Linked DNA regions of Homo sapiens: region 1 is linked to region 2. Evidence: fine-mapped expression QTL. A gene starts in region 2. The other region holds a variant in brackets. All regions are shown on one strand. Distances are between the middles of the regions. Region 1 overlaps LINC01331 (long intergenic non-protein coding RNA 1331). Region 2 holds the start of LINC01331 (long intergenic non-protein coding RNA 1331).

Evidence for each region. PIP is the estimated chance that this variant, and not a neighbour inherited with it, causes the effect.
Region 1: its variant is fine-mapped to the expression of LINC01331 in prefrontal cortex (GTEx, PIP above 0.99). The same link has a PIP of 0.9 or more in cerebral cortex.

Annotation. Positions count from the first base shown.
Region 1 is chr5:74,388,576-74,401,088 of GRCh38, reverse strand. The region is part of intron 2 of LINC01331 (long intergenic non-protein coding RNA 1331); the gene reads left to right. Among named protein-coding and RNA genes, the nearest start is that of LINC01333, 73 kb to the right of the region's middle. The variant T/C (reference allele first, on the strand shown) is at 6,565.
Region 2 is chr5:74,529,824-74,542,336 of GRCh38, reverse strand. It overlaps LINC01331 (long intergenic non-protein coding RNA 1331), which reads left to right and starts at 5,564. Exons shown (of 4, transcript NR_197436.1): 1 at 5,564-5,667; 2 at 11,776-11,927.

The DNA of each region.
Region 1 (12,513 bases), 140 kb after region 2:
TTTTGCTAAGAAAAGTTTAAAATTTTTAATTCATTATTTTTCACCTGCTCACTAAATATTTCCTCCCAACAATATGCTTGCCAGCCCTCCCCTTGGTAATCAATGTCTTCTCAGGAGCCCCTGTGGTGAGCCTCCTCTTTTCATGACCTATTATTACAGAATTGCTACATTGCCATTGAAAGCAATGGCAAAAACTGCAATTACTTTTACACCAACCTAATATTTGGGTAAAGTTCCAGACTCTGATTTCATTAAGGAAGGACATCCCCCTGGCCAAATGTCAAATAAAGGAACAAACACAGCCTGTCAGTACAGTGGTGGTCTGGGGAAGTCTTCCAGGAGGTCCAAAGACTGAGTTTGCACTGGAAGAAGGACTGTGCTGGTATCTTGGAGTTATTTGTCAACATGGAGAGAAAACAGCTCATATTCTTAATTATGTTACAGTTGGAAAACATTGACTGAACAGTATCTGGCCTAATCATTTTAGGCCTTCTGAATACCCTGCCTGACAGGTGAAAGAAAAAGACATGGAAATTTTAGGAAGTCCTGAGTTTCATTCAAAGGTATTCATGAAGATGTTCCCTGACCCAGAGAATTCTTAATAGTTGGTCCTGCAGGTTACAGCTTGGAGGGATCTCCTTTCAGCCAGCCTTGCTCCTTCCAGAATGGTGCTGTCACTGATTCAAAGCCTCCTGGGCCAGAAGAAAGTGCCTAAGATGCACCTCCTTGGTCAGAAGAAGGTCCCTCCCCTGGGTCTTGCTACCTCCCTGGGCTCTACCAGCTCAACAAGGCCAAGTTCCTTCGCCGCATGGCCTTGGCATTCTGCTGGCTCCCTGGCACCTTTCCCTTTGCTGTCCAGGATTCTTTGATGCTTTCACTTTCTTTTTTCCTTTCTCCTTTCCTCCAGCCAGCCTTTCTCATCTAAACCATGTAACTCAGAAATATTTTTTAAAAATTCTCCCAAGGATGATAAATAAGTATCACTCTATTATAGAAGTTAATTCATTTGATACAATGGGCATTAAGGCTTAATTCTACTGTGGCAGTTTGGTTGAGAAAGACTGTTGGGACTATGGAATATTTTTTCACCATGGGGGCGGAGAAACTCTAGTCCCCTCAGTCTCACTTCTGTCACTGATGACAGTTGTCTCAAATATTCTGATTTTGTTGGGAATTCTCTCTGATCTATTAATACCAAGGGCTTAGGTTTTTAATAAATGTTAGGGAGAAAGAGACTCTCAGTGTTCCTCCCATGCAAACTCCTTCCCTGATACAATGGGCTCAGGATTTTACATTGGGGAATTTCTTGAATTGGGGAAGGACAAAAGAGGAGAAGTACTAAGGGAGAAGAGAGTCAAGAGATTGTCTTCTTATCACCTTTAGATGAGAGCTATCTTAAAATATATCAAGTCTAGTAAGTGAGACAAGAAGTAGTAGGCTTGTCTTACTTCAAAAGATACACGCGTTAAAGTTAATAATGCTAGTTGCTGAAACTGATGCCTCTCAAATTTCAATCACTAAACAAAATAAACATTTATTTCTTGTGCACATCACAGGGAGGATGGGGGTGGGGGTGTGTCTCTGTTCCACACAGTCATTCAGGGATCTAGGTTTCCTCATCTTGGGCCTTGCCCTCCTCCCTGCCTCCAAAGTCCCTTGCATTCAACTGGCATATGAGGAAAGAGCAAGGATCACATGTGGGAGGATATTATGGACCAAGCCTGGTGAGACGCGTAACACCTGGCCTACATTCCACTGGTGAGGACGCAGTTCTCTGGCTCCAGCCAACTGCAAGAGAGCCTGGAAAAGGTAGTCCAGCTGTGTGTCCATGAAGAGGAAGAGGACATGGGTGTTGGTGGTAACCAAAGTTTGGATGTTTGAGGGTCATAGATTTTGGCTCAAAATGAGATGCTAATTACTTGTGAAAATTAGTATGCTCCATGGCAGGCAACCTCATGAAGTAATATGCTTGTTGTTACTAGAATGTTGGTTGCAGAACAAATTCCTGCCATTTCCACTTTGGAGTCATGTAATTACAGTTCCCAAACAGCATAGCAATTCTTCCTACTCTTTTGCTTCCACTTTCCCTGTGGTGCAAAATGTTTGGTTTATATTACTGACCAAAGAGTGGGCCACATGGCTTTACCTCTTCTGGGGAAGGTCTTTTTAATTTTTCTCTTTTTTCTTTTCTATGATAACAAGCCGGAGTATGGATGTTTAGGTGGCCTTGGTTGTCAGCAGGCAGGGCCCGGGGGATCTCTGTGTGTGGGGAGGCTGAGCCTGCCCATTGCTGGTATACATGCCTCTTGGGGCAAAAGTTATCATGGTCCTTTTACATCAATAGAGCATAAGTAAAGGAGAGCATAATTACTATAAGGGTAACATTCCAGGATCCTAGTATTTTAATATTGGAAGATATATTAGAATTCATAGAGTCAAACCCTTTGTGTGCTGAATATGAAGAGGAACAGAGGGGTAAAATCCTTTGTCCTCAGTGTTATACAGCTAGAATGGACAACACACAGTTAGAACCTGGGCCTCCTGACTCCTAGACTTCAGCTCCAGCTTGTTCCTCTCACCAACAAAAAGTCAGGATTTTCCTATCCTGATGATATTGGTTGATGCAAAAGTAATTGTGCTTTTAGCTGTTAAAAGTAGTGTCAAAAACTACAATTACTTTTACACCAACCTAAAAGTATTATTCAATCAACCTTGTGCAGATCCTGGTTGGAACCATATAGAGACCCGGAGCCATAGGAAGCAGGAGACAGAGGATTTGGTTCTGCTCCCAGCTCTGTGTGGCCATGGCTGTGTGGAAGGCCCTTAGGTTCCTCAGATATAAACCAAATAATTTGATTAGATCAGTGGTTTTCAAATGATTTTTATATAGGGAGGCCCAGTGTCTTCTGGAGCTCCCTTAGTAGCTATTTTGGCAAACAGGAGTGGAGTTTAGCTATTTTACTTATCAATTCCTTGTTAACTTTTGTTAGAAGTTTCCATGACTTAAAATGGTTTGAAAACCCCTGGAGGAGATAGTCTCTGAGGTTCTTCCTGTCTTTAAAATTTTATGTCTCTTCTAAGTGTACTTCGGGTTTCATTATTAAGGTACTTCATAGAGGAGCTGTTTAATTGATGAAAGAAGACATGAAGGTTTGAGTTGTTCAAGAACAAACCAAGGTTTGCTGTTTGTCACAGTTGCAGATTCAAATGCCTTTGGGATCAAGCAGGTAATCTAAAGGAGGAATGACTGTGTCATGGGCTGAGTGTGTCTCCTCCAAATTCACATGTTAAAGTCCTAAACCTAGTACCTCAGAATATGACTGCATTTGGAGATAGGGTCTTGAAAGAGGTAATTATGTTAATGGAGATTCTTTGGGTAGGCCCCAGTCTGTATAACTGATATCCTTATAAGAAGAGGGAATTTGGATGCAGGCACGCACAGAGGGAAGACCATATGAAGACACGGGGAGAAGAGGGCCATCTATAAGCCAAGGAGAGAGGCCTCAGAATGAAATCAACCCTGGCGACACCTTGATCTTGGACTTCTAGCCGCCAGAATTGTGAGGAAATAAATTTCAGCTGTTGAAGCCACAGAATCTGTGGTGCTTGGCTACAGCAGCCCTAGCAAACTAATACAGAAAGGTGTGTGCATGCACGTCAAGCAATGGGGAGTTGGGGGGACCCCGGCAGTTTTGAGTGAGCTCATCCCGGTTGAAAGGGGAAGGTGCTCTTCAGCTGGGCTGATTGTTGCCGTGTGGGAATAGTGGCTCAGAGGTGCCAGATGTTCTGAATTTTCAAGTGAAGCAAGACATTTTTTTAAATGTGAAATTTCTCAATTGTTAAGATATACGACACGGGCAAATAAAACATGTCTGTGGGCTGAATTTGACCTACAGACCACTGGTCTGTGACCCCAGGTTTGAGGAAACAATTTAGAAGTGACCTCATGAAGCAGAACATAACTAGAGAGTAAACATTAAGAGCTGGAATACTGAATTAGAAGCCAGGACACCTGGCTGGCTTTCATGGCCAGACTATTCTGCTGTCTGACCTTGAGCCAGACCTCAATTCCCATTCATGTCGGACGAGGAGGCTGAAATCCCTTCCAGCAAAGGCCATCAGAGATTTCAAGTCTGAGTGCCATATTCTGTAAACATCAGAGAATTATGGCCAAGATAATTACTCTCCACCTGGCTATTTCTAAGAATAAGTGTCTGATTTTCTAAAGTCAAAAAGAAAGAGATGGAATGTCATTAAAGATTTAAGTACATAGGAGTAGATAAAATATCCCCATGTCAAAAAAAAAAGCTACTCAAACTGGGAAAAAACAAAAAACACAGGAGGAATTGCTTCAAATGACTGTCATTAAAAATATTGGCAAAAGAGAATAAGAACTTCTGCCTTTCATTATCAAAACCTGCTATATGAAGTTGTGTTCCTTTGCTCTTGTACTGGAATTGTCACTGTAGGGTTTTCTTGGCTCATTTTTTTTTTTTTTTGTCAGCATTTCAAGGACAAGGTATGGTAGACATGAACTAATAATAATAATGACTGAGCCCTTACTATGTGCCAGGTAATTTACATATACAGGCATTTCTGCTGTAACCTAAAATTACACTTTCTAGAAAATGTTGCTGTCTGCAAAACTTGGCATAAAAAATAATAGGACTTATGGGAAAAGTTGGGCCAAGGCAGACCATTCAAATCCCATGCAACTGTGATTAAGGAAAGCAATCACTACTACCTGGGGAGATCATTTGGACCACCTTGGCAGCAGCTGAGGGGCTAGAGGCTGCCACACGGGTATTAAAATGCACAAAAGCAATAAAGATGAAAAGCTGGTAACATTTTAATTAGACTGACACTGGCAGGGGCTGGGACAGGGCGATGGAAATGTAGCTTGGAGTCACAGGGCTGTTGTTAAGGTGCACACAGGAAGCCAGACAACCTTCCACAAGCTGAGAGCTCACAAGGCTGGAGGTGCACCTACCTGAGGAGGTAGCCCTGGTGGCAGGTACTCATTTAAACATTTCCTGGAATACAGCAAAAAGATTTCTGCTGCTGGTACAGCAGCCAAACCTCAAGCCTTTTCCTTCCCATTGAACGTTATGGTTCTACTCCTGCTATCTCAGGACTTCTTGGTTAGTAAAAATTACCTACGAAATTATGGAAACCAGTGCAATTTTCACATTATACTGATGTCATTTCTCTGTGATCAATCTCTGATGGGCTAATTCATACACGGAAACGGTAGCAGAACAGAATGTATTATCTTATTTAATTCTCACAATTCTATGAGGTATTGGAGGGAGCGGTGGTTCCCACATTAACATGCATCGGAATGACCTGGAGGACTTGTCAAAACAGATCCTTCTGTTCCATACCCAGAGTTTCTGATTCAGTAGGTCTGGGGTGGAGTCCAAGAATTTGCACTTCTAAGAAGTTCTCATAAGGTACTGATGTTGCCGGCTGGGGGACCACATTTTGAGAACTACTGTATTACAGGAAACTGATAATGGGCAAGATCTTATGACTTGCCCAAGATTGCTGCGGGAATGGACCCAAGGTAGGCCTAAAACTTGGGCCTAATGAGGGTACTAAGCATGAGAAATAGACCTTTTATGACCTATAAACACTTAGGAATGTGCTGAGGTTGGTTTCAGTAGTTACTTGCACCTAGTTAGCAGGCAGGTATGCAGCTCGGGCAGCTGGGGGGATGGGTTTGTGGTCAGCAGCAGCTGTATATTTTCATGGGGACTGGGAGACATGGGGGTCTATACCTCCACCTGCTGGCATGCTGTGTGGTCTCGTTTTGCAAGACATCTCCCTCAGTTTCTGTATCACCTGCTGTTTAGGAATTTACTCCTGGTGTGTGTCTGTTAGAGTCCCACCACCCATCACATGACCTTTCCCTGGAGGCAGCTGGCAGGCACCCAGCCTCAGGATCTCTGACTCTAGCACCCAGGAACTCTGACTGTTGCACCTGTGTCCTCCCCTGCTATGGTCTGAACGTTTGTGTCCTTTCAAAATTCACATGTTGAAATCCTAACCCCCTGTGAGGAGGTGGGGCCTTGTGGGAGGTGATTAGGTCACCAAGGCCTGGCCTTATGAAGTAGGCCCAAGGGAGCGTCTTTGTTCCTTCCATCATATTAGGACACAGCTGGAAGAGGTCATGTATGAGCCAGCAAACAGGTCCTCACCAGACACTAAATCTGCCCAAGCCTTGATCTCGGACTTTCCAGCCTCCATAACTGAGAAATAGATGTTTGTTGTTTCTAAGCCACCCAGTCTATGGCACTTTGTTGCAGTAGCCCAAACAGACTAAGACTTCCCCCAGCTGGTTGCAGTGCCCCCTGGAGACTTTTGTCAGAGCTTCCCAAAAGAGAGAAGGGAGTTTCCCTCTGACTGGCTTATACCCCTGCTTAGTGTGGCTTGCTTCTGGGATACATGAGACAAGGTATTTGAGTGCGGCTGAATAAAAACCTTGAGTTTGAGCCGCTCTGTGTGCTTACCAGATCTCTCAATAATTGACTTTGCTTGCTTTGTTTTTCAGGTTGTAAAATT[T/C]GTGGGGCAAAGGCGGTATGGAGTAATGACAGGAAAAAGAATGCTGTCCATTTTTACTGTGAAAAAACTCCCTATTTCAGAAAGATATACATTAGGGTTGTGAGGTTGTAGGCTGAATGAAGATTGGAAGAAACTTGTTGATTATTATTAAATGCCTCTCAATATTTCAGAAGACATTCCCCCACCCTGAAAGTATAATGTGATAGAAAGAACTATGGAGTTAGGCAACCTGTGATTTGAGTTGTGCGAAAACGGGAAAGTTATTTGTTTAGTCAAAGCCTCTGTTTCCACTTCCATCAAGTGAGATAATAATATGTACTTCACTAGGTTATTGGGAGGATGAAATGACTACCAGTACTGCAGATACATTTCTGATACCCACAGCTTCCTGAGCAAGGTATAGATTAGCTATCTCTTTGGTTTCCCTGAGGTAGCACAACAGAACCAAGAAAGTTCTTATAAAATGTGTTGTTCTCAATTTTGCACTTGCTTCGAAAGAACTAGAAACCAAGGCATGGTGCCATCTCAAGAAGACAGAAGCAGAAGCCTGCCAGAAACTGGCTTGGTTGAAACTCTGGTTCAAAGCATCAGGAAGCTAGCCATTTTCCCTAACTTCTCACTAACATATATACAAAGAGATTTTTAAAAAAGATAAAATGTACAACACTGAAAAATGACTAACAACCAAATTCCAGCATTTTGAAGAAACTGACAATAATTCTAAGCCAGATGGAGAGAACCGAGAATAACCGGTGTAGCTTTCCTCATATGTCATACCTCTACTTTGCCTCCCCCATTTGAAGACCTGGTGCCTATATCAAACAGAAAACTGTCCAGTTCTGTGAGGAGAGCAGAGTGCCTCTCTATACGTTTCTCCCACAGCCACCTGCCCTCTGCCTCTTGTCCCCACTCAGGCTGCCACCCTGTCATATTTAGGCCAAGACCCCAAATCTCAGAAAAAAGGTGATCAGGAAGTAGTGGTGTGCTGACAATGGTCCAAGGCCTGAGTGGGGTGGATACACCCTTGAATAATCCCTTCCCCTTGAGAATGAGTGGAAATTGTGACTGGCTTCTAGCCAGTTGAGTACCGTGAAGGTGATGGATGTCACTCCTGTGATTATGTTACATTATCTAAGAATTGTCCTAGTGGGCCCTAACAAGAGATTCTTTTGCTGGCCTTGAAGAAGTAGGCTGACATATCATGAGTGGACCTGGGAGAGGGCCACATGCAAGGAACAGAGGGGGCCTGTAGATGCCGAGAGCAGCCCTGGCTGACAGCCAGCAAGAAAGCAGGGACCTGCATTCTACAGCTGCAAGAAACTGAATTCTGCCAGCAACCCCCTGAGCTTTGAAGAGGATCTCAAGACCCAGAAAGAAATGCAGCCAGCCAACATCTTGATAGCACCCTTGTGAGACTCCGAGCAGAGGACCAAGCTAGGCCATCTTCAGACTCCTGCCCCGCAGAAACTGTGAGATAATAAATGTGTGTTGTTTTAAGTTGCTAAGTCTGTGGTCATTTGTTATGCAGAAAAAAAAAAAATAAACAAACCAGTACAATGAGTTGTAGTCTTTATGATGTAAGCATTGTGGCAGGAAATAAATAAACTCCCAGGAAGCAGAGCATGCTGGAAATGAGAATGATTAAATTGTTTCTCTGGAACCAGAAACCAGATAGTGGAGGTCAGGGGAAGGTACCACCTCAAGAAAACTGAAGGAAAGTCTGTGGGAAGTGAAACTTTGCCTGAGAGCTATAGATATACAAACCTGTCCTACAACTGTAAATCTGATAAAGAGATTCCAACACACTGCATGTGACCAGACAAGGGGTGAGAAGGGCCAGAGAAAATCAACTTTTCACAAACCTACCAAGAAACATCAAGGAAGAATAGGAAGAAACTTACAAAATCCTAATGTGAGACTAAAGAGAAGGCTTCCTATTGAAAATATTAAGTTTTTTTCTATAGATTAATCTATAATTTAATGCCATCCCAATAAAAATCTTAATGGCATTTTATTTGGAATTTGACCACATAATTCTAAATTATTCAGAAGAATGATCATTTAAGAATAGCTAATATATTTTTGAAAAGAATAATAATGAGGGTGTCTTTTTGCCTTATCAGAAAATTAAAACCATCTTAAATTCATAATGATTGTAATGTATATAGTATCAGCTCAGGAATAGGCAGGTGGGCTAATGGAACTCAACAATTTAAGTCCAGAACATACCCAAGGCTATGTATGTATGTACCCTTGTGTATTTGTGTTGTTTTGGTATACAATAAGGCCGGGCGCGGTGGCTTACGCCTGTAATCCCAGCACTTTGGAAGGCCGAGGCGGGTGGATCACGAGGTCAGGAGATCGAGACCATCTTGGCTAACACGGTGAAACCCCGTCTCTACTAAAAATACAAAAAACTAGCTGGGCGCGGTGGCGGGCGCCTGTAATCCCAGCTACTCAGGAGCCTGAGGCAGGAGAATGGCGTGAACCCGGGAGGCGGAGCTTGCAGTGAGCAGTGATAGCGCCGCTGCAGCCCCGCCTGGGTTGAAAGAGCGAGACTCCGTCTCAAAAAAAAAAAAAAAAAAAAATATTATTTCTAATCAGTAAAAAAAAGACTGGATAAATCTATAAATGGTGTTGGGAAGAATGATCAACCAATTGGTACAAACCATTTATATCACTACCTCATACATGACACACACACACACAAATTCGATCAATTTAATAATTATGTTAAATTAAGTTTAGCCCAAAGCTGTCTCCTTACATATGAGACTTTTGGTCTAAAGTTTCCTCCATATATAGTGAACTGAAACCCAGCTGGATGTGTAAACAGACTGCAACCTACTCATACAAATCGCCAAGCTTTAGCCAACCAAAGGCAGCTGATAGTTCAAACCAGGTTCAAATAAGGCAAACACAGAGCTGTAACCAATCAGGCTGTTTCTAGCATCACTTTTTTTTTCTGTCTGTAAATTCTCTTTGATCACATGCAGCGCTGGAGTGTCTCTGAGTCTATTCTGGTGGTGGGGGAGGTGCCTATTTGCAAACCGTTCTTTGCTCAGTTAAACTCTGTTAAATTTAATTTATCTGTAATTTTCCTTTTAACAATTATAAAAGATAAAAATGTATAGGTTAAATAAAATATGAGTGAATAATTTTGGTGTTTTGGGGGGTAGAAAAAGCGTTTCCAAGCAAGATACCAAAGCCAAGAATCATTAAAAAAAAAAGATGACTGTTATACTTTATCACACAAACAATGAGAACTTCTATGTGTCATAAAATTTCACAAAAATCTTGAAAGGCAAACAAATAGAGGGAAAAAATGTGATGTAAATGCCAGGTGTTGTTAAGCTTTGAGCTTTTACTAATCAGTTAGAAAAAAATAACCAATAGAAAAAATGAGCCAAGGCGAAAAAGAGGCAACCACAAAATACAGCAACCCATGTGTTTGCTTTGCTCTGCATACTTTTTTTTTTTTTTTTTCCCAGAAATTGTGATTTCTTGGGCTTCCAGGAATAGCGCTGTTGGGGCACTGCCCTTCTCCCCAGCCTCACTGTATTTTTCAGGAGCTGTCCAGTACCAATCATCTTTCTGTCAAGGTTGGTTTTCCTGCACATTACCCAGGAATTTCCAGTAAATGATTAGACCTTCCTTCTATTAAAAGATATTGCTAAATGGAGATTTTATACCCCTCCACAATTTCACCCTAAAGAATGGATCAATTACTAAAGCCTATTTTATTAAAATAATTATATTTCAAAATAGATATGGCTTTATCTTTTTATGATTATGAAAGCAATTCATACTTCTTGTAAAAACATTCCTATTTTTCAGAAAGATATAAAGAAAACGGCAAAAATGCCCTTATCTTGTTGTCCAAAGATAACTTCTATTTTTCTTTGTGTGTGTGCACACATTAATGCACATACATTCATGTGAGCATGTGTTTACTTATATTTTTATAAAAATGAGATCATACTTTCTTCCCAGTTCAACAATATATCATATCTTTCCACGTCAGTAAATGTAGATGTACCTCATCATTTTAAATGAATGCTTATTATTTTTCAAAATGAATATGCTGTAATTCATTTAACCAGTCTCCTACTGATAAAATTAAGGTTATTTTTTTTTCTTAACCATTATTAAGAGCTCTGTAATTGACTCTTTAATGCATATTTTTGGCCATGTGTCTGGCTACTTCCTAAGAATAAGTTCCTAGGACAGAGGTGATTAGTCAGTTGTCCTAAGGGAAAAAGAGCCAGACAAGATGATTTGATGCAACGGCAAGCTGTGATATTTGAGGAAGAGAAGAGATACTGAGTTGATCACAGTCACTGTCACTTGAATCTGTGCCCAGCCCAGCTCTGTGGCCACATGTTTGGGTCCTAGGGAGAGAGGAGGTGCTAGCTGCACTGTTTTCAGACCCTTGTGACAGTGGGTACGTGAAGGAGAGGGAGTTGCTCCTCCAGCTCTGATCCAAGCCATTATGTAGCTCTGGGTCAAGCCAGAGCAGGGGCAACCCCAGTGGGCTTGGGACAGTTTGTGTGTACTTTTGTGGACTTCATGGGGACTCCCAGAAACACAAAGCAGGGGCTGGCACAGACATGTGCCAGGGAAGTTTGAGTCATTACTTTTGCATGATTCTATCTATACCCAGCAGCAGGTAAGGCCTGGAGAAATTTAGATTATACTGTGATTACTTGTGGGTATAAACCAACTCTGTATGCTTAATGCTATGAGAATACTGAATGTACACTCTATTTTTAAGCACATACACAAGGCTTGTCCTTTCTGTCATTTTACAGTCTGAGTACCTTGGGGCTTGTTTTGTCTCACCTATTGTGTACTCAAAGCCAAGGTAAGGCCTCTTGGATTCTGTTGACAGCCATTTGCCAACTCAGCCATATGTCACTTAAGTTCTTTCACCTCTTTGTTTAAAATTGGGTATGCAATTGGTTCTCTCAAATGAAGCCTTTCAGCAATTTATAACCATATAGAGATTATGGTTTTTGTCTTTATTCCCACTTGTTAGCACAGTGCCTTCCCACAGTTCAAGGGAATCAGGTATTGAACAATAAAGAGCAACCAAATATCCAAAGTAGGGGAGTGCAGCAGACACTGTCTATTGTCATCCAACACTCATTCCCCTTCCTGCCCACTCTCCTTTCTCACTAAAAAAAGTCTAATTTATTCAGGAGCTGGGTAGAGGCTCATTAGTTTCAGCTTCCTTTCCAAGCCCCCAAAATAAAGCATGATTAGTTAAAACCAGTAACCATCATCTCACTTTGCTTGGCCTTTCGTTGGGTGAAGAATGAGTGTGTGATCCTGTTTTGGCTAGTGAGATGTAAAGGACAGTCCAGTGAGGTGAGTGTAGTTTCCCAAATGGAAAAAGACAAAGTCCCCCAAGAAGGCGGGGGGACTACACCTTCTACCTCCCTGGAATGGGGAGGTACCATCTAGAACAGCAGGGACCATGACATTGTAGGCGTGAGGATTCTAAGATGATTGATCAGTGGAATTGAGAGTACCTGGGTCCCTGAGGGCATAGAGAGCAACTGAACCCCCAGCAGTTGCTTTTCTCCATACTTGCTGCTTAGCGAGAAAAATGAATTCCTGCTTTTTTTTTTTTTTTTTTTTTTTGAGATGGAGTCTCCCTCTGTCATCCAGGCTGGAGTGCAGTGGTGCAATCTCAGCTCACTGCAACCTCCACTTTCTGGGTTCAAGCAATTCTCCTGCCTCAGCCTCTCAAGTAGCTGGGATTACAGGCATGCACCACTATGCCTGGCTAATTTTTCTATTTTTAGTAAAGACTGGGTTTCACCATGTTGGTCAGGCTGGTCCCAACTCCTGACCTCAGGTGATCTGCCCATCTCGGCCTCCCAAAGTGCTGGGATAACAGGCGTGAGCTATGACATCTGACCACATGAATTCCTATTTTTAAGA
Region 2 (12,513 bases):
ACTTACTGCAGCCTCAACCTCCCATCTCAAGCAATCCTCCCATCTCAGCCTCCTGAGTAGCTAGGACCACAGGTGTGCACCACCATGCTTGGCTAATTTTTAAATTTTTTGTGGAGATGAGGTCTCCCTATGTTGCCCAGGCTCGTCTTGAATTCCTGGACTCAAATGATTCTCCCACCGCAGCCTCCCAAAGTGTTACGATTGCAGGCATGAGCCACTTCCCATCTGGGGACTTTTAATAATATAATTTTGTGTAACTACTGACAGTCTTGGTAGCAGAAAGGGCATCCATGCCATTTCCCTTCCAGAAATTTCCAAATGGTCTCTGAAGATCTCAGAAGTAAGACTCTCATTTTTGCTAACAAAAGGAGGTTACCTAGCTAACTCCACCACTGCATTAATGTGTACATTTTGAGTACATCATTTTTTTTGGTACATCTTTTTTGAGTACAACTTAGTACACTAAGTTATAAATGGACTGGACTTGAAAATATTTAAATTTTAACCAAGCATCTAAGAAAACTCCAATTTGACTACAGGCTTCAGGTCCTTACCATATATGTCCCAGATTTCTGGGACAGTCCCAATTCCAAATATTCAGTATTGTGGTCAGACAAGTATTTTGGTTCAGGAAGTATGAAGTCTGCCTCAGGGAAAGAGGTAGGTGGCTGTCATAGCCCTAGTTTGCATTTTATAGTTTGCTTATATGGAGAGCAGATCTTGGGCAGCCTTCCAAAACACCAGCATCTGAATTATCTGTTTAAAATTACGAAAAACACCAAGTCATCCAATGTCAGGACTATTTTCAGTTTCCTGTCACTATATTCAACCTGAGCCCAATAGATTGTGTAATCTATTTAATAAACAATTTCTCCCTACCTGGCTAGCCCCAGAGATGAACAATTGTCACTAATCCAGGAAAGATTCCATTCAACATGTATTCACTCATAGCCCTGGGTTCCGTATGAGGTGAGGTATGTTACAGCAAAATTCTTCTCCTTTCAAAACCAGAAATAATAATAATTAATAAGCTTCTGATAATGGTTCATCCCACATTGTCAATTTATCTTTTGGAAGAAGATCAAAATGAATTAACCATAGAGAAGTGAAGCCAAACGGCACAGTTTCAAGATTTGACTGTGAGAACAAAACTTTTAATTAGGAGTTTTGAATTCTTCTCATGAGATCTGCAGGATTCCAGACCTTATCAACACTTGGGAAAATCCAGTGGATTTTTTTTTTTTTAAATAACCCCATGTTCTTTGCTAACAGGAAACAGAAAAAGACTTTTTTTTTTTTAATTTGGAATTGGTTCTGTTGTAAATTAGGATGACACTACTAAACAGTTTCAGATATAAATTACTTTCAATGATTTTTTTTTCCCTTTCATCCAGAACTGGAGCTTGTATTTCCTGTTGATAAAAGAAAAAAAAAAAAGGCACTGTATTTACCAACCTCCCTGATCCAGCCAATCCCTCTGGCCTCTGTCTTTCAAATGAATGTGGAATTTGCTTGAATCTGAGGAAGTTTAGAAGCGGAGCTCCAGACCACCCACTTTCAGGATCTATAAGATGGTGCTGGAGTTAGGCTGAGCTGAGGCACTAATGCAAGCTCATGGGTTAGACCAGAGGTTCTCTTGACTCCATCAGAAAAAGTAGTTTGCAAATATCTTCTTGCTAGTGTCCTCCAGTGGAGGGGCTGACTCCAGGGCCCCTGGCTGCTGACACAGGTTGAATCAATCTACTTGCATGTGTGGAGGAGCCTCTTTTTATACACAAAATGTATTTAGGTGTCTTCATTTTTTATAAAGTGGGATAAGAATGCCGAACATCCTTCCATCCATTACCTATTATGTCTTTCTACTAGGAAAACTGCCTTGAAGTCAGGGTTGCTTCGCATTTTCTGGTGAAGCACTAGTGCTGATTTTACCAAGTCCTAGAATCATAGAATATTCAGCCTGGATCCTTGTGAGTTCTTTTATTTGACGGGTGTGGCGACCATGGTCTAGAGCGCTATGAGGACTTTCCTAAAGTAATAGTGCTACTACTTATTTATTTGCTAATTTATTCATGCAACAATTTTTTCACATCTGCTATCTTCTGTCCTTAAAGAGCTTACAGTGTGTTCTGGAAGATTGCCGATAAGAAAATAAACATTACAGCCAGGCACTGTGGCTCATGCCTGTAATCCCAGTACTTTGGAAGGCCAAGGTGGGAGGATTACCTGAGGTCAGGACTTCAAGACCAGCCTGGCCAACACGGTGAAACCCTGTCTCTGCTAAAAATATAAAAATTAGCTGGGCGTTGTGGCGGGCACCTGTAATTCCAGCTACTCAGCTACTCAGGAGAATCGCTTGAACCTGGGAGGCAGAGGTTGCAGTGAGCCGAGACCGTGGCATTGCACTCCAACCTGGGCAATAGAGCAAGACTCTATCTCAAAAAAAAAAAAAAAAAAGAAAAAAAAGAAAGAAACATTACAAATGGTGATATATTTCATGAATGAAACAGATAGGCTGCTCTTGTAGAGAAAGAACAGGTGAGTGGTGGGAAGGGCCTCTTGGGTAGGGTTGCCAGGTTACGTCTTTGGGAGATGCGGTTTTAGGCAGTGGGAAGAGGAAATTGGGGGTGTGCTGAGAGTACGTTGCTGATAGAAGGAGGCAGGGGAGTTATGGTAAAGAAATGAAGACAACCTCAGGCCTTGATTCTCTGGCAGAAATCCTTTTCAGATTTCAAATGAATATCACTAGATCTTGAATGACCAGTAAGGTTTATTATTAGATATCATTCTAAACTGCTCTTTTTTTCTTTCATCTATCACAGTGGAAATAATATAAAGGCTACACCAAGTGAGGTTTTAGATAAAAAACTTATTCCATTACATTCTGATATAGAGAAGAGATGACGTTTACACCACCAGGCTTGCTGGGTTCTAATAGAGATAAATAAGCTCTGAGTACAAGATATGCACAAGGATAACTCAACACAGCCCAACTCCTGATTGCCCCTCCTCAGCTAGAAATGGACTTGCCTTTGGCTGGGTGTGGTGGCTCACACCAGTAATTCCAGCACTTTGGGAGACCTAGGCGGGCAGATTGCTTGAGGTCAGGAGTTCAAGACCAGCCTAGCCAACGTGGGAAAACCCTGTCTCTACTAAAAATACAAAAATTAGCAGGGTATGGTGGCATGCACCTGTAATCCCAGCTACTCGGGAGGCTAAGCCATGAGAATTGCTTGAACCCAGGAGGCAGAGGCTGCAGTGAGCTGAGAACGCACCACTGCACTCCAGCATGGGTGACAGAGTGAGACTCTGTCTCAAAAAAAAAAAAAAAAAAAGAAATGGACTTGCCTTCCATGTGGCTCTAGGTCTCCCCAATGGCACTTAGAACAATCTAGTTTTTCTGCATCCATCTGTCCTCTATGGTGTCTTGTAAGTTCCTTGAGGGCAGGGATGAGTTGAACTCATTCACCAGCAAACCCATCACCCAGCATATTGCCATGCTCATGAAGACTGCTCAATGAATGGTTGAATGGTTGATATAGAAATACTTAATCTTTAGGAAGATGTGATGCTGGAAAAACAGGGCCATTTTTCCCTTTTATGGCTTTTGCACAGTGCTTGTTATAGGGAACCCACAATTATTACTGTTCTTACCAATAACTGAAAAAAGGCTGTTAGAGGATCCTTGCTTAGTTCCTTTGATGAGGCCATTGGCTCAGTGACAAGAATATTACTGAGGATGGAGAACCAAACATTGAGCTGTTTAGCAGAACTTGCAGCAGAGCTATCATTGCATCATTCTGCTGAGATGTGAAGTAATGTCTGAGCCTTCGGTTCCCACTGTAGGGCAGCTCAGCCTGTGCTCCCAGTTCGGACAGTGACATAAACCCTGCATCCTGTCTCCTGACCCTTGCTCTAGAGGCTCCAGGTCAGTCCCACAAGAGGCAACTTGGCAGCCAGGCCCATTAGGAAGTACATGCAGCCCCAGGAGGTTCTCACAAGTATAGATCAACACTGTGTTTGCCATGGAAAGTTTGGAGGAAAGACTGTACGCCACTCAGTGAAATCCTTTCCTCTAATTCTCTGCTCCTGTCCTGCTTGCAAGCAAAGGAGAACAGCACAAGGAAATTGGGAACTGCATTGTTCTGAGGCCATCTACCCAAATGAAAAACAATGTAAATATTTCACACAAATCCCAGGTCAAATTCCTGTATATACCAAAGCAGAGAAATTTCTCTGAAATGATGGTCGTGGAGAGTAGTACCAATGATGAGAGAAGTTAGGAGTAGAACCCAGAGCCAGTCTGTCCCTGCGTGATGGGTACCGGGGGAGATCCCTCCTACTGTACCACCGTTCTGCAGTCACACTACTTCCTCATTAGAAAAACGCTTTCTCAGTGGCAGGGGAAGGGTTTAAACGCTCCAGAATCTGAGCTGACAATGGGATGTTGTTGCAGGTCAGAAGTGAGAGATAAAAACAAAGATAATAAAAAGGATCAATGCCCCTAATTTGTTGATTGGCTCTCTGCCCCAGCTAAACACTCAGCCAACACCCAGGGAAACTGGGCCACAGTTAACTGGGCATTTGGGCCAGAGGCACTAAGAGGTGTTTATTATTTAGTAGTGGATTCCTGGCTGGGCACGGTGGCTCACGCCTGTATTCCCAGCACTTTGGGAGGCAGAGGTGGGCAGATTGACTGAGGTCAGGAGTTCGAGACCAGTCTGGCCAACATGGTGAAACCCCGTCTCTACTAAAAATACAAAAAATTTAGCTGGACATGGTGGCCTGTGCCTGTAATCCCAGCTACTCGGGAGGCTGGGGCAGGGGAATTGCTTGAACCAGGGAGGCGGAGGTTGCAGTGAGCTGAGATCACGCCACTGCACTCCAGCCTGGGTGACAAGAGTGAAACTCTGTCTCAAAAAAAAAAAAAAAAAAAAAAAAAGGTGGATTCCTGAGAAGTCCAGTGTGGTGCTGCTTGACTGTTGTCCTAGCTACTTGGGAGGCTGAGGGAGTATCCCTTGAGCCCAGGAGTTTGAGTCCAGCCTAGGTGACATAGATTCTGTCTCTAAAAAAATTTTTTTTTAAATTGTTGGATTCCTATGTCCATAAGGAAGACTTCAGGAATGACAAGCTTGCCTCCTAATTTGGCTCCTCCTGAAGATACAGTATGACCTGCTTTACTTTGGGTTTAACATCCTATAATTACTGTCAGATGAAGAGAGACAAAGATTCACTGTATTTCTTACTAGTTTCTTTTTTCTTTATTTTTACCTAAAACATAAGCTGAAAAGCAGCAGAAAAAGAAAGACCCAGTACTTCAGACTAGCAGTGGGGCAAAACCCCCACATTTAAAAAGAAATACTAGTTTATTATGTTTGGGGTTGGAATCACCAAGAGACCAATTAACACCTTATTTTTAGGATTAGCCATTCTGGTATTTGCAGATAGTTTCTTAAACAGGACTGTTTGGAGTTCACACTGTAGGAGTAAGTGAAGTGTTGATAAAAGAGATTCCAGAACAAATAAAGATTTCTACAGTAAAAGCTGGGGAGGTGTGTAGGGCTCCAGTCTTTGGGTTCACAGCTTGGCTCTACATTCATTGCTGGAGGAATCCAAGCCTCACAAAAGACCGCTTTTAAAGAAAAACTCTATTTTTCTTAGAAGAACTAGGTAAGTCTAGTTTTTCTCTGAAGTTTGTTTTGTTACGTGTCTCTGTTACCACCATCCATGCAGTTCTGGGGGCCTGCATTTCCCAGGATTTGTAGCTTTCGGCTGAATTGAAAGTTTCTAGCTTGGGAATCAAATCTTTGTTGTTCTTGCTTGCAACTCGTTGTTATTTTAAATTGCTTGCATAATTGCCAAGGTAATTTGCATTTAGAAGAGATTGACTGCATTTTCTTTACCCATCCTTTGCTGTATTCGTTTGGTAAGCTTTTAAAGAATAAGTTTTGTAACGGGGAAGGTGGAGGTCAGATATTGAGGGTCAATTTGGTGTCTCACTCAGAACCTGCCTCTCTGCAGCATTAATGTGGTTTCTCTATGCTGTACTTTCCCACTGCCATCTCCTGGGGAAATAAGGCGGGGGGCTTCTTTCGAAGAATCTATAAAGATTAGATTAATTACTGGCCCACAATCCCATTATGTGAACTCACAGAGCCAAAGAACATTAAAGCTGGCAGAGAATAATTTAACCTTATTTTATAGATGAGGAAACTTGGGCCCAGAGAGGAAAAATAATCCCCCTACTTCTCCCACAGTCTCAAAGCTAATTACCAGCAGAACTGGAACAGAAACCAGGTCTTTTGATTTCTAGATTAGGATTCAACAAGTATTTAACTCATTAATTAGAATTTTCCTAGTTCCAACCTGGATGTCTTTCAGAATGGGTGGCTCAATTTTTATGTTTGCTGTTAAGATTCCCTCAGGGCTGCCTGGCTAATTTTATTACTATTTTGATTTTACTCAGTCAACATTTCAGAAATTTGCAGTCTTCCCATCATCTGTGTCAGAACTATCTGTTAAAAATGCAAATCTCTAGCCTTTTCCAATCTTCAGAATCCGAGTCTCTTAGAGTGCCCCCAGGATCTGCATTTTAATAAGCTTCCTTGGAAGAGTCCAAGGCACTTGAGAACAATTTTACTTGGCTCAAAGTCAAGTAAGTTAATACATTTTGTCGATTTAAAATGTTAACGTTTTGGAAATCAGGTGGCACCTTCTCATCAATGGTCAAGTAGGAAAAAAGTTGTTTTTTACATAAATGTTGTATCTGATAATCAATAGCGACTTAGGAGTTGAGGCCATGTTAAATTTCTCTTTTAAATCCTTTAGTTACTAAAAAGCAAAAACTTAAATTTGTATCTGAATTCAATTTCATGGCATTTGATTCTTTAGTGCTTAAGTTCTTCTTTAGTAGCAAAGAAAAAATATTGGGAAATTTTATTTTTTCAGGCCATGGGCAGCCTTTACTGAACCGTTATCTCCACAACTCAAGTCCTGTTCTACAGATTTTTCAAGACTGTTCATTATAAGACTCTGCCTTCTATTTTATAGTTTTTACTTTCTGAGATTACCTCTAAATTTTCATGCATATTTATTGTAAAATTTCTAACAAAATGTAGAATGATTAACTATCTCTATATTCCTGAAAGGGTTAAGGAACTTACCATGCATTTTCTATTCATTGAATGCCACTCCCATAGTATTGCTATCTAGGTTTTTAGATTTACCTTTTAAAAACACACATTAGTTACTTAAAGTAAATAGTTAATCATATTTATCAATGATTTCTCAATTTTGGGGCTTAGCATGTGAGTGATAACACACTCAGTCTTTTTTCTTGAAAATGATTTATTTTACTCTGCTGTGAATGATAGTTTACCTGGGTATAGAAGCCTTGGTTGATAATTGGTTTTCCTCAAGGCTGTGAGAAGATTATTCTGCTGTTTTCTGGCACCCATTGTAGATGAGAGTTAGTCTAATTGTCTTTTCCTTGCAGGGCAGCTGTCTTTTTGCTTTGGAAGCTTTCAAGATTATCTCTCTGCCTTCAATGTTCAGTAGTTTCACTGAAAAATGTTTCCTGTTATAGGTTCGTTACTATGTATTCTTTTTGGCACTTGGTGTATGTAACCTTTTCTTCTGAGAACATATATCATTTTCTTCCATCTGAAAAGTTTATAGTATCTCTTTGACTATTGATTCACAGATATTTTCCCCTATTTTATTCTTGAACTCCTATTAGACATATGTTAGATCTTCTCAATATGTCTTCCATGTCTCTGAATTGCTATTTCATGTTTTTTCCCCTTCCTTAACTCTTTATTGCTCATTCTGGGTAAGCTCCTCTATATAACCTTCTAATTTATTAATTCTCCGTCTTGTTATACCCAAGACAGAGTTAATCCTGTCTATTGAGTTTTTTACTCAAATACTATGGTTTTTATTACCAGAATTTCCAACTTGTCCCTTTTAATATCAACCTGCTCTTGTTTCATTTTTTAGTTATTTTCGTTCACAATTTACTATTCATTTTTATGAATATTCCTCCTTTCTTTTTCTCCTTGATGGTTCTAACAATCCCTATTTTATTTTATTTTTATTTTTCTGAGACAGGGTCTTATTCCAGTTGCCCAGGTCAGTGTGCAGTGATGCAATCTTGGCTCACTGCAGCCTCAACTTCCCTGGCTCAAGTGATTCTCCCACCTCACCCTGTTGAGTAGCTGGGACTACAGGTGCATGTCACCACACCTGGCTAATTTTTTTGTATTTTTAGTAGAGATGGGGTTTTGCCACGTTGCCCAGGCCACAATCCCTATAGTAAATTCACTTTCAGATTCTATTACAGGCATATCTCAGAGACACTGTGGGTTCATTTTCAGTACAATGCAATAAAGCAAATGTCACAATAAAGTGAGTCGCACAAATTTTTTGGTTTCCCAGTGCATATAGAAGTCATGTTTATACTATTCTATAGTCTAAGTATGCAACAGCGTTATGTCTAAAAATGTACGTCTCTTAATGAAAAAATACTTAATTGCTAAAAATGCTAACAATCATCTGAGCCTTCAGCAAGTTGTAATCTTTTTGCTGGTGGAGGGTCTTGCTTTGATGTTGATGGTGGCCGACTGATTAGGGTGTTGGTTGCTGAAGATTGGGAGGTCTGTGGCCATTTCTTAAAGTAAGACAACAATGAAATTTGCAGCATCAATTGACTCTTTCACAGAAGATTATTCTGTAGCATATGATGCTATTTGATAGCATTTTACTCACAGTAGAATTTCTTGCAAACTTGGAGTCAATTCTCTAACTTTCCCACTGCTTTATCAACTAAGTTTATGTAATACTCTAAATCCTTTGCTGTCATTTCAACAATGTTCACAGCATCTTCACCAGGTCTAGCAGATTCCATCTCAAGAAACTACTTATTTGATCATCTGTAAGAAGAAGCAACTCCTCATTCTTTCATGTTTGATCATGAGATTGTAGCAATTCAGTCACATCTTCAGGCTCCACTTCTAATTCTAGTTGTTTTGCTATTTCCACCACATCTGCAGTTACTTCCTCCACTGAAGTCCTGAACCCCTCAAAGTCATCCATGAGGGTTGGAATCAACTTATTCCAATATCTTGTTAATGTTGATATTTTGACCTCCTCCCATGAATCACAAATGTTCTTACTGGTATCTGGAATAGTGAATCTTTTTTAGAAGATTTTCAATTTACTTTGCTCACATCTATGAGAGGAATCACTATCTATGACAGCTATAGCTTCATAAAATGTGTTTCTTAAATGGTAAGACTTGAAAGTTGAAATTACTTCTTAATTCATGGGTTGCAGAATAGATATTGTGTTAGCAGGCATGAAAACATTAATATCCTTGTTCATCTTGATCGGAGCTCTTAGATGACTAAGTACACTGACAATAAGCCCTAATATTTTGAAAGAAATCTTTTTTTTTTTTTTTCTGAGAAGCAGGTCTCAACTGTGGGCTTAAAATATTCAGTAAACCATACTATAAACAGATGTGCTGTTTCCCAGGCTTTGTTGTTTCACTTACAGAGCACAGGCAGAGTACATTCATCATAATTCATAAGGGGTCTAGGATTTTCAAATGGCAGATGAGCATTGGTTTCAACTTAAAGACACCATCTGCGTTAGTGCCTAACAAGGAAGTCAGCTTGTCCTCTGAAGCTTTGAAGCCAGGCATTGACTTCTCCTCTCCAGCTAGGAAAGTCCTAGATAGCATCTTCTTCCAATAGAAGGCTGTTTCATCTCCACTGAAAATCTGTTGTTCAGTGTAGCCACCTTCATCAATGATCTTAGCTAGATCTTCTGGGTAACTTGCTGCAGCTTTTATATCAGCACTTGCTGCGTCACCTTACACTTTTATATTACGGAGATGGCTTCTTTTCTTAAACCTCATGAACCAACCTCTGTTGGTTTCAAAGTTTTCTTGTGCAGTTCCTCACTTCTCAGCCTTCATAGAATGGCTTAAGTGAATATTGTGGCTGGTATGATTTTCTATCCAGACACTCAAACTTTTTCTATATTAGCAATAAGGCTGTTTTGCTTTCTTATCATTTGTGTGTTTACTGGAGTAGCACTTCTAATTTCCTTCAATAACTTTTCCTTTGTATTCACAATTTGACTAATCATTTGGCCTAGCTTTCAGTCTGTTTCAACTTTCAACATGCCTTCCTCACTAAGCTTAATCATTTATGGCTTTTGATTTAACATGAGAGTTGCGGGACTTTTCCTTTTACTTGAACACTTAGAGGCCTTTATAGAGTTATTAATTGGCCTAATTTCAATATTGTTCTGTGTCAAGGAGTAGGGAGGCCTGAGGAGGAGAGAGATGGGAAAATGGCCGGTTGGTGGAGCAGTCAGAACGTATACAACATTTACCAACTAAATTCATTGTCGTATGTGTGTGTGACTTGTGGCACTTGAAAATAATTACAATAGTAATATCAAAGATTGCTGATCACAGATCATCATAACAGATTAATAACAATGAAAAGTTCGAAATATTGTGAGAATTTTCAAACTATGACAGAGACATAAAGTTAGCACATGCTTTTGGAAAACTGGCATGATAGACTTGCTTGAAGCAGGATTGCCACAAACCTTCAATTTGTGAAAAACAAAGTGTCTGCAAAGAGCAATGTAATAAAACGAGGTATGCCTGTATTTCCATTTCTTCTGGAATGAATGTATCCCAAATATTGATTTTCTTGGCTCCCTTTCTTAATGTTAGTTTTCTTTAATTGTTTTAGAATTTTAACTTGTGTGATGTACATTTCAAGTGGCATCACACACACTTTCTCTCTTCTTGCTATACCTTTCCCTCCCTGCTTGGTCACAGGGCCCCAGTCCACAACTTGGTTTTATGTTGGTGGCCCTGAACTTTTATCTTACGATGATATTCAGATATTACAGATTTAGTCACTGAATCAGGAGGCAGGTTGGCCCAAGTCTTGGTCATACCTGCTTGTTCCTACTTTTCTAGATGCACATTTATATAAGCCCTAACCTTAGGTAACAGCTGCACCTTTTTTTAGGGCAGAAGTTCCTCACCGCATTTAGGTTCAAGCAATAAGCCTGGATCCAGGCACCAACCACCTAGGGCCCTTTTACTCCCAATACTGCAGAGGAGTTATCTTGCCTATCTGTGTGTGTCTCCAGAGCCCACAAGCTCACAGCTTTAGTAACTACTGTGTTATATTTCTGGTCTGTTTCTAGCACATAGATATTTATTTTTCTTTATGTATGTATGGGCATGTGGTTTACTTTTTTTAAAACTTTCTTTTAAATTCGTTCTTAAAATATTTTATTTATAATTGCTAAGTGTTTGGAGTGCAGGTAGCGACTTCAAAGCATGAGCTTACAATGTCATTTTGATCTGCAGAGGCAGGCTCTGGGGATGAAAATAGCAGCAGTTCCTATGATGCCATCTTTGAGACATCTACCATTACCGCTACTGCTATGTTGATATTGTCCTTTGTTTCCCATCTATCAAGCATTATTCTCCTAAAAATGGCTCTGTGTCTGACAAAGCCCACTCAACATAGATTAATTCTCTCTTAAATGACTTTATTAAGCTCATTAATGATTCACTTAGCAACCCCTTTTGTAATAAATTTGCAATATTCTCTAAAGAAATCGATCTGGAGAAAAGCCAGAGTGATTTAGGAAGGAACATGGTTTAAAAATGAGTGAGTCATTCTCAAAAGCACACAACATGGCTGTAGAAATATTTTAATATGTTTATATCTTCCACAGATTAAACTAAGATCCTTTGCCAATAAAAAGACAAACAATAGAAAATTCCTACAGATTAAGAATACCAACCAAGATTTCAGTGAACTTACTTGCTTCAGCTCTGGGAGAACAGTTATGACATGGTGCTGAATTACATCAGTGAGGAACTAGAGGTGAGACTGGGATACAGGGGAATTTGGGTTTAGAATCCCCTTAGCAATGCAGTATGCAAATCATGAAACAGCATAAAGACACATGAATTATGCAAGAATATATAAGGGGTTTCCAGAGAAACATCAATTTCCATTATTAAAAATGGTTTGGTAAAGCAGTCCAAAAAATCATTTTTGGCAGGTCACTATTTTTAAGTGAGTTATTTGAAGTTCATCTACATTTTTTTCCCAGCGTTACACTTGGTGGTTAGGACCCCTTGTTACAAGGGGCCATATTAACACATAATTGTGGAAATGGACAAAGAAACAATTTTAATTCATATGGTAAGAGACAGGATAAAGATATGCAGGTGAGGGGTTCCCTAACACAGTCTATGAAGGTCAGAGAAGACTTCCTAGAGGAGGTAATGTCAGAGCTAACCTTTCGTGGAAAAATAACCATGCATCAGGCAAAATGGGGTGGTGGTGGCAGGTAAGAGTAAGGGGAGTTGCAGTATTTCAAGTATGGAGAAAAATAGGGTCATGACATACATGATTATTACTTTTCAGATGACCAGCATCTGCACCCTCTTCCTTTTTTATGTTA